3 separate regions of the Homo sapiens genome follow, and all the other regions are reported to be linked to region 1. Evidence: microRNA targets listed by miRTarBase, many of them from high-throughput screens and not tested one by one. Region 1 holds a microRNA gene; each other region holds the end of a gene's coding sequence.
What was found. Region 1 holds the annotated microRNA hsa-miR-7973 (UGUGACCCUAGAAUAAUUAC, at 1,839-1,858, opposite strand). A microRNA usually pairs through its seed, bases 2 to 8, with sites in the 3' UTR of a target mRNA and lowers its output. Matches are read on the target gene's strand: a 7mer-m8 pairs with bases 2 to 8, a 7mer-A1 pairs with bases 2 to 7 and ends in A, and an 8mer does both.

Region 2: miRTarBase lists ZNF562 as a target of hsa-miR-7973. Seed matches in the 3' UTR shown: 7mer-m8 at 372-378.
Region 3: the mRNA of MTMR4 is a reported target of hsa-miR-7973. Seed matches in the 3' UTR shown: 7mer-A1 at 2,388-2,394 and 8mer at 1,676-1,683.

Annotation. Positions count from the first base shown.
Region 1 is chr15:51,312,633-51,315,891 of GRCh38, reverse strand. MIR7973-1 (microRNA 7973-1) reads right to left here and starts at 1,858; the gene lies at 1,783-1,858. The region is part of intron 1 of CYP19A1 (cytochrome P450 family 19 subfamily A member 1); the gene reads left to right. MIR7973-2 (microRNA 7973-2) reads left to right here and starts at 1,785; the gene lies at 1,785-1,860.
Region 2 is chr19:9,650,060-9,653,318 of GRCh38, forward strand. It overlaps ZNF562 (zinc finger protein 562), which reads right to left. Exons shown (of 6, transcript NM_001130031.2): 6 at 1-3,259. The coding sequence ends at 2,890. Among named protein-coding and RNA genes, the nearest start is that of ZNF562, 23 kb to the right of the region's middle.
Region 3 is chr17:58,488,990-58,492,248 of GRCh38, forward strand. It overlaps MTMR4 (myotubularin related protein 4), which reads right to left. Exons shown (of 18, transcript NM_001378067.1): 18 at 548-2,851. The coding sequence ends at 2,674. Among named protein-coding and RNA genes, the nearest start is that of HSF5, 2.2 kb to the left of the region's middle.

The DNA.
Region 1 (3,259 bases):
GTCACCGTGTTGTCAGCCACATTCTTGCCAGCACGTAGTTCAAGTTTCCATCTGAAGAGAGGGAAACATGAAGAAATAGAGGAGCGTGCTATTAAAATAACGAGGCCTTTTTGCTAAGAGCAAACAATCACTTCCTTTCCTTGGCACCCAGAATCTGCAGGGCCCTGAATTAGGCACTGAAGGGAGATCCAGGGAAGCATGAGGAATAGTCACTGCCCTTGAGGGCCTGGATGTATAGGTTCATTCTACTTTTCATTCATTTATTCAAGAATTATTTCTTGAGCCTCTACCAACAGCAGACACTGAGCCTGGCACTGGGTTTAGAGCAAGAACCATATAACTGGGTATACAACAGTAAACTGTGCAGATATGGTTCTTGCTCTAAAATTGCTTGTAGTCTAGTGAAGGACAGAGGCAAGTAAACAAGCAACTACAAAATGAAATGAAGATTGCAGTGATGGGGAGGGGAGGGGGTACTCTGGGTGTAGACTGGGGTAGGGTGGGCAAGGCTGAGTGGGTGAGATATCATTACAGTGGAAACCCGAAGACTGAGTATGTGTGAGCTAAGCATGCACCATGAGGGGTCTGGCAGTTGGGACGGAAGTGTACTCCCCATGGAGAGAATGTGCAGAAGCACGCATAACCTTCTGACCGGACTGCAGCAGGCCTGGGTGACGGTGGTGGTGAAGGTGGGGAGTGTTGAGAAACACAACCAGCAAGGTAGGCAGGGGCCCGTAAGTGAAGGACTTTGAAAGGCCTGTTGGAGAGTTTCTGTGTTATCTCAAGGCCAGTGAGATAAAGGGCTTGAAGCAGCAGATTTGTATGTTAGAGTCCTCTGGCCTCGGGGTAGAGAGTGGATGAAAGCAAGCAGGATCGGATTCAGAGAGGTCAATTAGGAGCTGTTGCCAGGGACAGTGGCTTGAACCAGGAAACAGCCCAGAGAGGTGCAGAGAGGTTGAGGAATTTGAGACATCTTTAAGAGGTACAACCAACAGGTTTGGAGACTGGGTCGGAAGTAGGAAATGAGGAAAATGGAGGAAACCAACACTTATGAAGAAACAAAGACAGAGGCTGACAAACAAAAGCAATAGCCATTCTCCAGGAAGAAAATGGTGGCATGACCATGTGTTTTGAGCAAGGAAAAATTGCAATGGGCTAGAGAGATTTTGAAGGACTTTCTAGAAGAGTTAGAATTGGAGCTGGGTCTCCGACATGGGTAGGATTTTGGTGGGTAGAGAGGACATTCCAGGCTAAACAATGATGCAAGTTAGAGTTCTAAGGCAGAACAGTGTGTGATTTGTTTAGCATGATTTGGTCATGGTTTTCTTGGGAGAGTCCCAAAGAACTGATTCTCCAGGGGGTGTTACTAAAACTCTTATTGAAAGGAGGGACTACAGAGATGAATCTCATCACTCTCCCAGAATGGCACAGAGCTTTTCATGGACCCCCGGGCCACCTATGTAGGAACCTCAGGGGGTCTGTGGACCACTAAAAGCCCAACATGCCTGAGACTCCACAGATACTGGCTTCCACCATGATAAAGGCAAAAAGTCCCTCTTTCCCAAAATCAATACTTTTATTCTCATAGGCCTCCTGCTGTGGTCTAGTCCCCATGTTGAAAGCTGCTGTCCCAGGGTGTTGCTTCACTACTTCTAGGCTCCTGCAGAGTCCTGCCTCATAGGCCGCACTGGTGAGTGAGGCCAGCAAACCCATCAGGGAGACTACATGAATCCAAGGCCGTGGAAGACTTAGGTTTGGATATTCCCTCTGCTCCCTCCTGGCTGTGTGACCCTAGAATAATTACTCACCCTCTCAAAACCGAGACTCAGAGACGTTGGGTAATTATTCTAGGGTCACACAGCGAGGAAGGAGGAGAGGGAGTATCCAAACCTAAGTCTGTCTGACAGCAAAGCCTGTTCTCTCCATCTCTCCAGGTTCCTAAGCCAGGTGAGCGTTGAACCTTTCTTGAATCAAGGTTCCAATTCCAAGGTAGGAAAGCACAGTCAGTCAGGGAAATATTTACACTGAGACCACGCACCCCAGCCCTTTCCCAACCTGCTCTTGTGTGATCCTTTTGAGGTTTTTTGTTTGTTTTGAGATAGAGTCTCACTCTGTCGCCCAGGCTGGACTGCAGTGGTATGATCTCAGCTCACTGCAACCTCCGCCTCCCAGGTTCAAGTGATTCTCCTGCCTCAGCCTCCTGAGTAGCTGGGATTATAGATGCCCGCCACCATGCCCAGCTAATTTTTGTATTTTTAGTAGAGATGGGATTTCACCATGTTGGCCAGGCTGGTCTTGAACTCCTGACCTCAAGTGATCCCCCCACCTCAGCCTCCCAAAGTGCTGGGATTACAGGCATGAGCCACTGTGCCTGGCCTTAAGTTTTTTATAGATGGGAAAACCGAGGTCCAAACGTGAGCAAGGGCTCTGCATGCTACCTCTCTATTTTCTCAGCCCCTTCTGCAGGCTCCATGCCATAAGAACATGGCTCCTAAGGTTCAGGCCTATGGCCCCAGTTTAGGTGGTGCCTCTGCTCTGCTCCCCACCACCCCAGCCTCCTATTTGAAGGCCAAGACTACTCAGCTTTGATTCAGGTTGAATGAGTCATCAAGGGTAAAACAAAGAAGAGAATAAAACAAAGAAGAGAAGGCCTATTCCCTTGCAGATGAAATCAATCCACTCACCTTTTGACATCTTTTTGTTCTAGAATGATGACAGTATGCAATGACTCAGAATCATCACACTCACAGAGACTACTTTGTATTTTTTCTTGCAAATGAAGAGACAATATGCCCAAAAAATGAGCTGAAAATGGCTCATGAAGGGAGGGAAGATGACCTCCAGCACACCAGGGCAGAGTGGGGGCCACATGAAGGTGCAAGAGTGGGAGGGAACCACAACGCCTTGGCAGAGAGGAGAGCAAGTGGGGGCCAAGCCACAAAGCTCTTCAAGGCCAGTCAACAGTGAAACCTGAAGGAGTCCCATCCATCCCCAAGTCTGCTTGAGTTAAAGCCCTGCACCCTCACAAGCAGCTGGAGGGAGGGGAGGAAAGATATTTTCAAAAGAGCCATCATATATGGGGTGTGGGAAAGAAAAACTTGCTGCGTCTAACACCAGAGAGCCTCTCCAAGCCAAGCCATCTGCCTCAGGGCAAAGGAGGGAATGGAAGCGGGAGAGAAGGGTTTGGAGCCAGCTCTCAGCAACATGTTTCTATCTGGAGAAATGAGCTGAGAAGATCTGAATCTTCTCCAGCCTGTTC
Region 2 (3,259 bases), not on the chromosome of region 1:
ATAACCTCTTCAAAAAATAAAAAAGAAATAAAAGCCTACAGCCAAACCAACAAAATAGAGTGCATATCTCACCAGAACTGCAAAGACAAGTATGCTGGTATTACTACTTTTAGTTGGTGTTGTGCAGCGGGTTAAAATCAGTCCAGTAAAGCAAGAAAATATTTAGAGAGAGCTTCATCATCATACGAATTTTGGGGGTCATTGTTCAGTCCAAAGTACTTAATATGATTCTTTTCTCTTTCCACATAGAGAATCAGATAATCTATAAATAATGACTCTTACTGTTCCACTTTAGGAGTTAGGTATACATACATATGTGTATATATATGTATATATATATACACATACACACACACACACACACACACACAGTGACCCCCCAAATTTCATATGAAGTTCCAAACCTCAATGTGACTGTATGTGAAAAGAGAAGGGGGCGGGGAGGGGGGAGACCGACCGACCTATTTGTTGGTCTCCATCGTGTGAAAACATGAGGAAGTGGGCACTTACATGCCAGGAAGAGAGCTCTCACTAGAGGTTGACCATGCTGGCACTCTGATCTCAGACTTCCAGCCTCCAGATATGTGAGAATATAAATTTGTGTTTTGGGCCAGATACGGTGGCTCAGGCCTGTAATCCCAGCACTTTGGGAGGCCAAGGCAGGTGGATCACCAAAGGTCAGATCTGACCAACATGGAGATCAGCCTAACCAACATGGAGAAACCCTGTCTCTACTAAAAATACAAACTTAGCTAAGGTTTGTGGTGCATGCCAATAATCCCAGCTACTGAGGGTGAGGCAGGAGAATCACTGGAACTCAGGAGGTGGAGGTTGCGGTGAGCCAAGATCATACCATTGCACTCCAGCCTGGGCAACAAGAGCAAAACTCCATCTCAAAAAAAAAAAAAAAAAAAAAAAAAAAATCCTGTGTTTTTAACCTCATTGATTTAAAATTAAATTAATTTCTAAGCCATTTGGTCTGCGGTATTCTCTTATGGTTGTCTGAGCTGACTAAGGCAGATATTGGTACTGAGAAGTGAGGTACTGCAATTAAAAACAAACAAAAAAACTAAAAATGTGAAGCAGCTTTGAAACTGACAAATGAGTAGAGGCTGGAAAAATTCTGATGTGCAAGCTGGAAATAAGGTTGGTAAGGGTTATTCTGGTGAGGTGTCATTGGGGAATGAGGAACATGCTATTGGGAAATGAAGAAAAGACAACCCTTGATATAAAGTGGTGAAGAACTTGGCAGAACTGTATTCTAGCATTTTACGGAAGGTAGAGCTTGAGACAGATAAAATGGTATGTATCACTAAGATCTGTAATTAAAGTGTTAAAGGACACAGGAAGCTTCATTATTCCTGAGTGCTTACAGGAAAATGTGCTGGGAACAGGCCCCCCAAATCTGGCCATAAACAGGCAATGAGAAACTGGCCATAAACAAAATCTCTGCAGCACTGTGACATGCTCGTGATGGCTATGACGCCCATGCTGGAGGCTGCTGGTTTACCAGAATGAGGGCAAGCAACACCTGGCCCACCCAGGGCAGAAAACTGGAAAACTGCTCAAGGCATTCCTAAACCACAAACAATAGCATGAGTGATTTGTGCCTTAAGGACATATTCCTGTTGCAGATAACAAGCCAGAGCCTGTCCCTTTCTTTCTCATAAGGAATACTTATAGCTGATCTACAATCTATAGGAATAATGTTTATCACAGGCTTACTGTCAATAAATATGTGGGTCAAACTCTGTTCAAGCTCAGCTCTGAAGGCTGTGAGCCCCGATTCCCACTCTGCACTATATTTCTGTGTCTTTGTCTTAATTCCTCTAGAGCCACTGGGTTAGGGTCTCCACGACCCAGCTGGTCTCGGCAAAAATGCAAAAGGAGACCTGAATTGCAGAAGAAATTGTTAAGGAAAAAGGAACCAGAACTTGGAGATTTGGAAAATTCTCAGCCTATCCATACTGCAAAAATTAGAAAACTTGTACTGAAGAGAATCCTCAAAGTGTGGCTGAACAATCATTTGATAAAGAGATCATGAGTGGGATTCATGGACTATATCAGCCATCTTAACAGAAGTGAGAAGAGAGACTGGATTATACTATAAGAGACACTGCCACTTACATTGTGCCACCTAAAATGGACAGAGAAGACAGAACAGAACAGTCAAGGTTGTCACACTTCTTATTTTACAAGAAGGGGACATAGAAATAATCAGCTGTGAAAGGGCACTGGCAGTTATGGATGGTTTCACTCCTGACATGCTCTGCAGGATCCATGGGAACAGAAGAGAACCTTGGAGGAGCATCTTTTTAACAATCCACCTCTGGGGCCTACATCATCTTGGCTTCTGGTAAATTTTGACATGAATGTGCCACACTGGCAGCCACTAACCAACAGGGGCTGGGATCAATCTGCATGATTTATCTCGTACAGAACTTGTTAATGCTATGATCTTAGGAATCTAATCACCAAGGTGAGGCAGCCTGCAGTACTGACCTCACCATCCATGACCCTTCTTCACAGATGCCCAGACTCAGGTAACCATGATGTTGTATTCAGAACCTGTAGGTTTAATTTCAGACCCTCGGGATGCATCTAAGGCCAATCTGTGAGCCATTACAACCTCCAAAAGGCATTTAGGACTAATCTGATGATCTTTGCACTGCCAATAATTAAAGATGGCAACCAATGGGCTAAATGGTAACAACACTCATATCCTTACATTCATAGTATTTCTCCCCAGTGTGAATTCTTTCATGCATACTTAGGCATGAGGAAAGAGCAAATGCTTTCCCAAATTCTTTACATACAAAAGGTTTCTCTCTGGTAGGAGTTCACAGGTGGGGTGAGGAATACAGAAATTCTTTCCCACATATCTTGCATTTACCTTTCTCCACTGTGAGTTTTCAAATGTTTACTACGATGGGAAGAAGTAATGAAGGTCTTCCCACATTCAACACATTCATAAGGCTTCTCTCCTGTGTGAATTCTTCTATGTTGAGTAAGCGTTGAAGATCTATTGAAGGCTTTCCCACATTCCTTACACTGATAGGGTTTCTCTCCAGTGTGATTTCGTATGTGTATAGCAAGGCCCGTGTACTGAGTGAAGGCTTGGCCACATTCCTTACATTCATAGGGTTTTATTCCAGTGTGAGTTCTTACATGTTGAGTAAGGTGAGTTGATCTAGTGAAGGCTTTCCCACATTCCGTACATTTGTGTGGTTTTATTCCAGTGTGAATTTGAATGTGAACA
Region 3 (3,259 bases), not on the chromosome of region 1:
GTGGCATTTTAGACATTAAAGAGAAATAAAGATGGGACAGAATTCTACGGTATCCATAAGAATCGATCCCTAGCCAATCAATAAATAAGAATGTAACAAGAGCTGTGCTGATTCAAAAAGAGAGGTTCATTTGAAAACGGAAATTGGCCGGGCGCAGTGGCTCATGTCTGTAATCCTAACACTTCGGGAGGCCGAGCTGGGTGGACTGCTTGAACCCAGGAGTTCGAGACCAGCCTGGCCAACATGGTCAAACCCTGTCTCTACTAAAAATACAAAAATTAGCCAGCGTGGTAGCATACCTGTAGTCCCAACTGTTCAGGAGGCTGAGGCAGGAGAATCGCTTGAACCCAGAAGGCGGAGGTTGCAGTGAGCCGAGATCGCACCACTGCACTCCAGCCTGGGGAACAGAGGGAGACTCCATCTCAAAATAAATAAATTGGAAATTGCTGGGAGAAAGGGGTACAATGTTCTACTCTTCTCATGGTCAAAGAATAAGTGAATATTAAGTTTTTTTAGAAATGAAAATAAAACGACCCAACAAAGCAGCACTAATATAGAGATTTTATTTAAACTGTATTGAATTTTTACAGCACATTGCATGTTTGTCACAACGCAACTGCACAGTTTGGATTTTTGGCCACATCATGTCACTTACACCCACAACAGCTCTGAAAGGAGTATTTGATGAACACATCTGAGCCAAGAGCCCAGAGTCTCTCTCCAAGGCCATGCAGTTTGTTCACTGATGGGACAGTCCCTCAAAACAGCCACGCTAAGTAGACAGATACAGTCTCCCCAAATGTTACCAATCTTACTCCCCTTGAAAACAGGCAGAGTGAAGTGCAATGAAAGACAAGTTAATTAAAAAGCCACTCACAACTGGCAGTAAATTTTAATGATTGATAAAATGCTTAAAATAATTTTATGTATCAGAAACAAGGAACAGCTTGTTACTTTTTCAATGATCTCAGGAATTTTGCAGACACAAAATCTCCATTATTCAGCTCCATTTAAATGAAAAAAAAAGTTCCGCTAGGCTGACCTAAATATGCCAAAACTTTTTAGGTTACATCTATGGCAAGTACAAAAGAACCACAGATGCGTCTCTGTAGGACTGAAAAGGTCAGGACAAATAATGATTCTTGTTCTAAATGCAGATCCTAGTTATTTTGGAATGAAATGCTGTTTTCTAGAAAGCAACATGAAAGTAGCAGTAAGAAAGATGACTACCATCATTTCAAAACAGGATAAGCCTAAATATAATTTACCATTTATATGTCAACAAATTAAGGAAAACTGTATAAAGTCCTAGTGGTTTCATTATAGGCCAAGGAGACTGTATCTGTCCCACCCACAGTACATGGCTATATCACTGTATCTTTTGGTTAAGTGCCACTGGTACATATTAAGATGAAAAAAAACAAAAACAAAAACAAAAAAACAAAATAAAATTTTTTAAAAACCAACAACGTTTGGTCCAAATGGACACATGTTCTTTCCCAATTTTGGTATCAAGGCTTTATTCTCTTCTGTTTGGGTTCCATTGTTAAGTGCACAGAAATAGACAGCAGCATTTGTACTGAAACCCTCACATACCAAACAGCATATGCTAGGAGGTAAAAACCAAACGCTAAATTCTACCCTCAAGGTGTCAAGTGTTCAGGATAAGAAGCAATGTGACCCAGAGGAGGCATCAGCCAAGGGAAAGACAACATGGGGGAAATGGGCAATGGAACAACAACAACGAAAACCTTTGTTTTATTTTCATGCCAGGAGAGGATCAAGGTGTAGCTCCTGTGTTAGCACCAGGACAACTAGGAAAAGTCAGGTGCAAAGAGTAGGGCACAATCAGCAGATATTTCACAAGGATAATTTTTGCTTTTCCCTTCTCATTCTTCACAGTGCATAACTCAAGAGCTGCCACTGTGTAACAGAGACGACTGCCTTCACAGCTCAAAATAACTCAATGTTTGCCAGGACCGAACATCAGCAGAGTTTTCCTCTGCTCCCAAAAATGTCTCACTCCCTAGAACTGTTCCCCTAAACTGAATATTCACCAATGCTGGCTGATGAGCCAACTGAAAAATACATTGAAACCTCCACTTGCTGAGCCAGTCTTCAAACCAAACTCCACAGAAAGACAGTACTAATGCAACTAGAAGGAGTGCCTCTAAAGGCTGAGCCTTCATGCAGACACAGAGCACAGAGGTACAGGATATAGTTCATCTCAAATAGGACAGGAATTCCTACCTTGTATACTATAATCTGCTTTTGTCAAGGTGGAGGAGAGATGGGTCTGGTTATCACTTGGAGTTTGGTTATACATATGCCTTTCTATTGCTGTTTGGGGCACTTTGCACCAGGCAACATCTACGCAATCATCATCTTGTGACCTCCAGGAGAAAGAGGCTGGAGTCACCAACTCAACATTAAGCTTCCAGACCCTGGGTCTGGGTTAGGACCATTACCCCAAGGTGAGGGTATCACCAGTAGAGGACCTCCTGCTAAATTGCAATTCCTCTGCTCCAGTTTCATGATACCAAGGAGGATTTCTCAAGATGGTATCTCTGAGCTCTGTGATTTCATGAGCCACACCAAGGAACCTTCCAAACTACAACTGAAGAAGATCCTCCCTTCAAACCTGCTAAAATTGGACAGGTTTCTCCCCGGCATTCAACTGGAAGCTGTAGCAATGGGTTTCTTCAGCTGTTGGCTCATGAGTTCCCTGGCACGAGAGACTTGAATGTGTTCGTAACATGAGTTACAGACGAGAACTGGGTCATAGAGTTGCTGATCAGGAATGGGCAGCTTCAGGTGGCAGCATCCAGCACAAAATACATTCCCACAATTTCTGTCAAAGCAGAAAGAGGGAAGAGTTCATCAGAAATGCCAATATACTGGCCAGGCAGGGTGACTCACACCAGTAATCCCTGCACTTTGGTAGGCTGAGGCAGTAGAATCGCTTGAGGCCAGGAGTTTGAGACTTGCCTGAGCAACATAGCAAGAGCCCATCGCTAATAAAAAAATAATTAATTAATTAATATTAAGAAATGCCAATATACTGAGAATGAGTGATACTAAATGAAAAGTTGGGGACAAACAAAAATAGTTTCTATAAAGAGGTGTCCACTTCCAAACTAATTCCACTTAGTTCTATACATATGTATTACACTATTTTTGTTTTTGTTTTTTGTCCTTTTTGAGACAGAGTCTTGCTCTGTTGCCAGGATGGAGTGCAGTGGCGTAATCTCGGCTCACT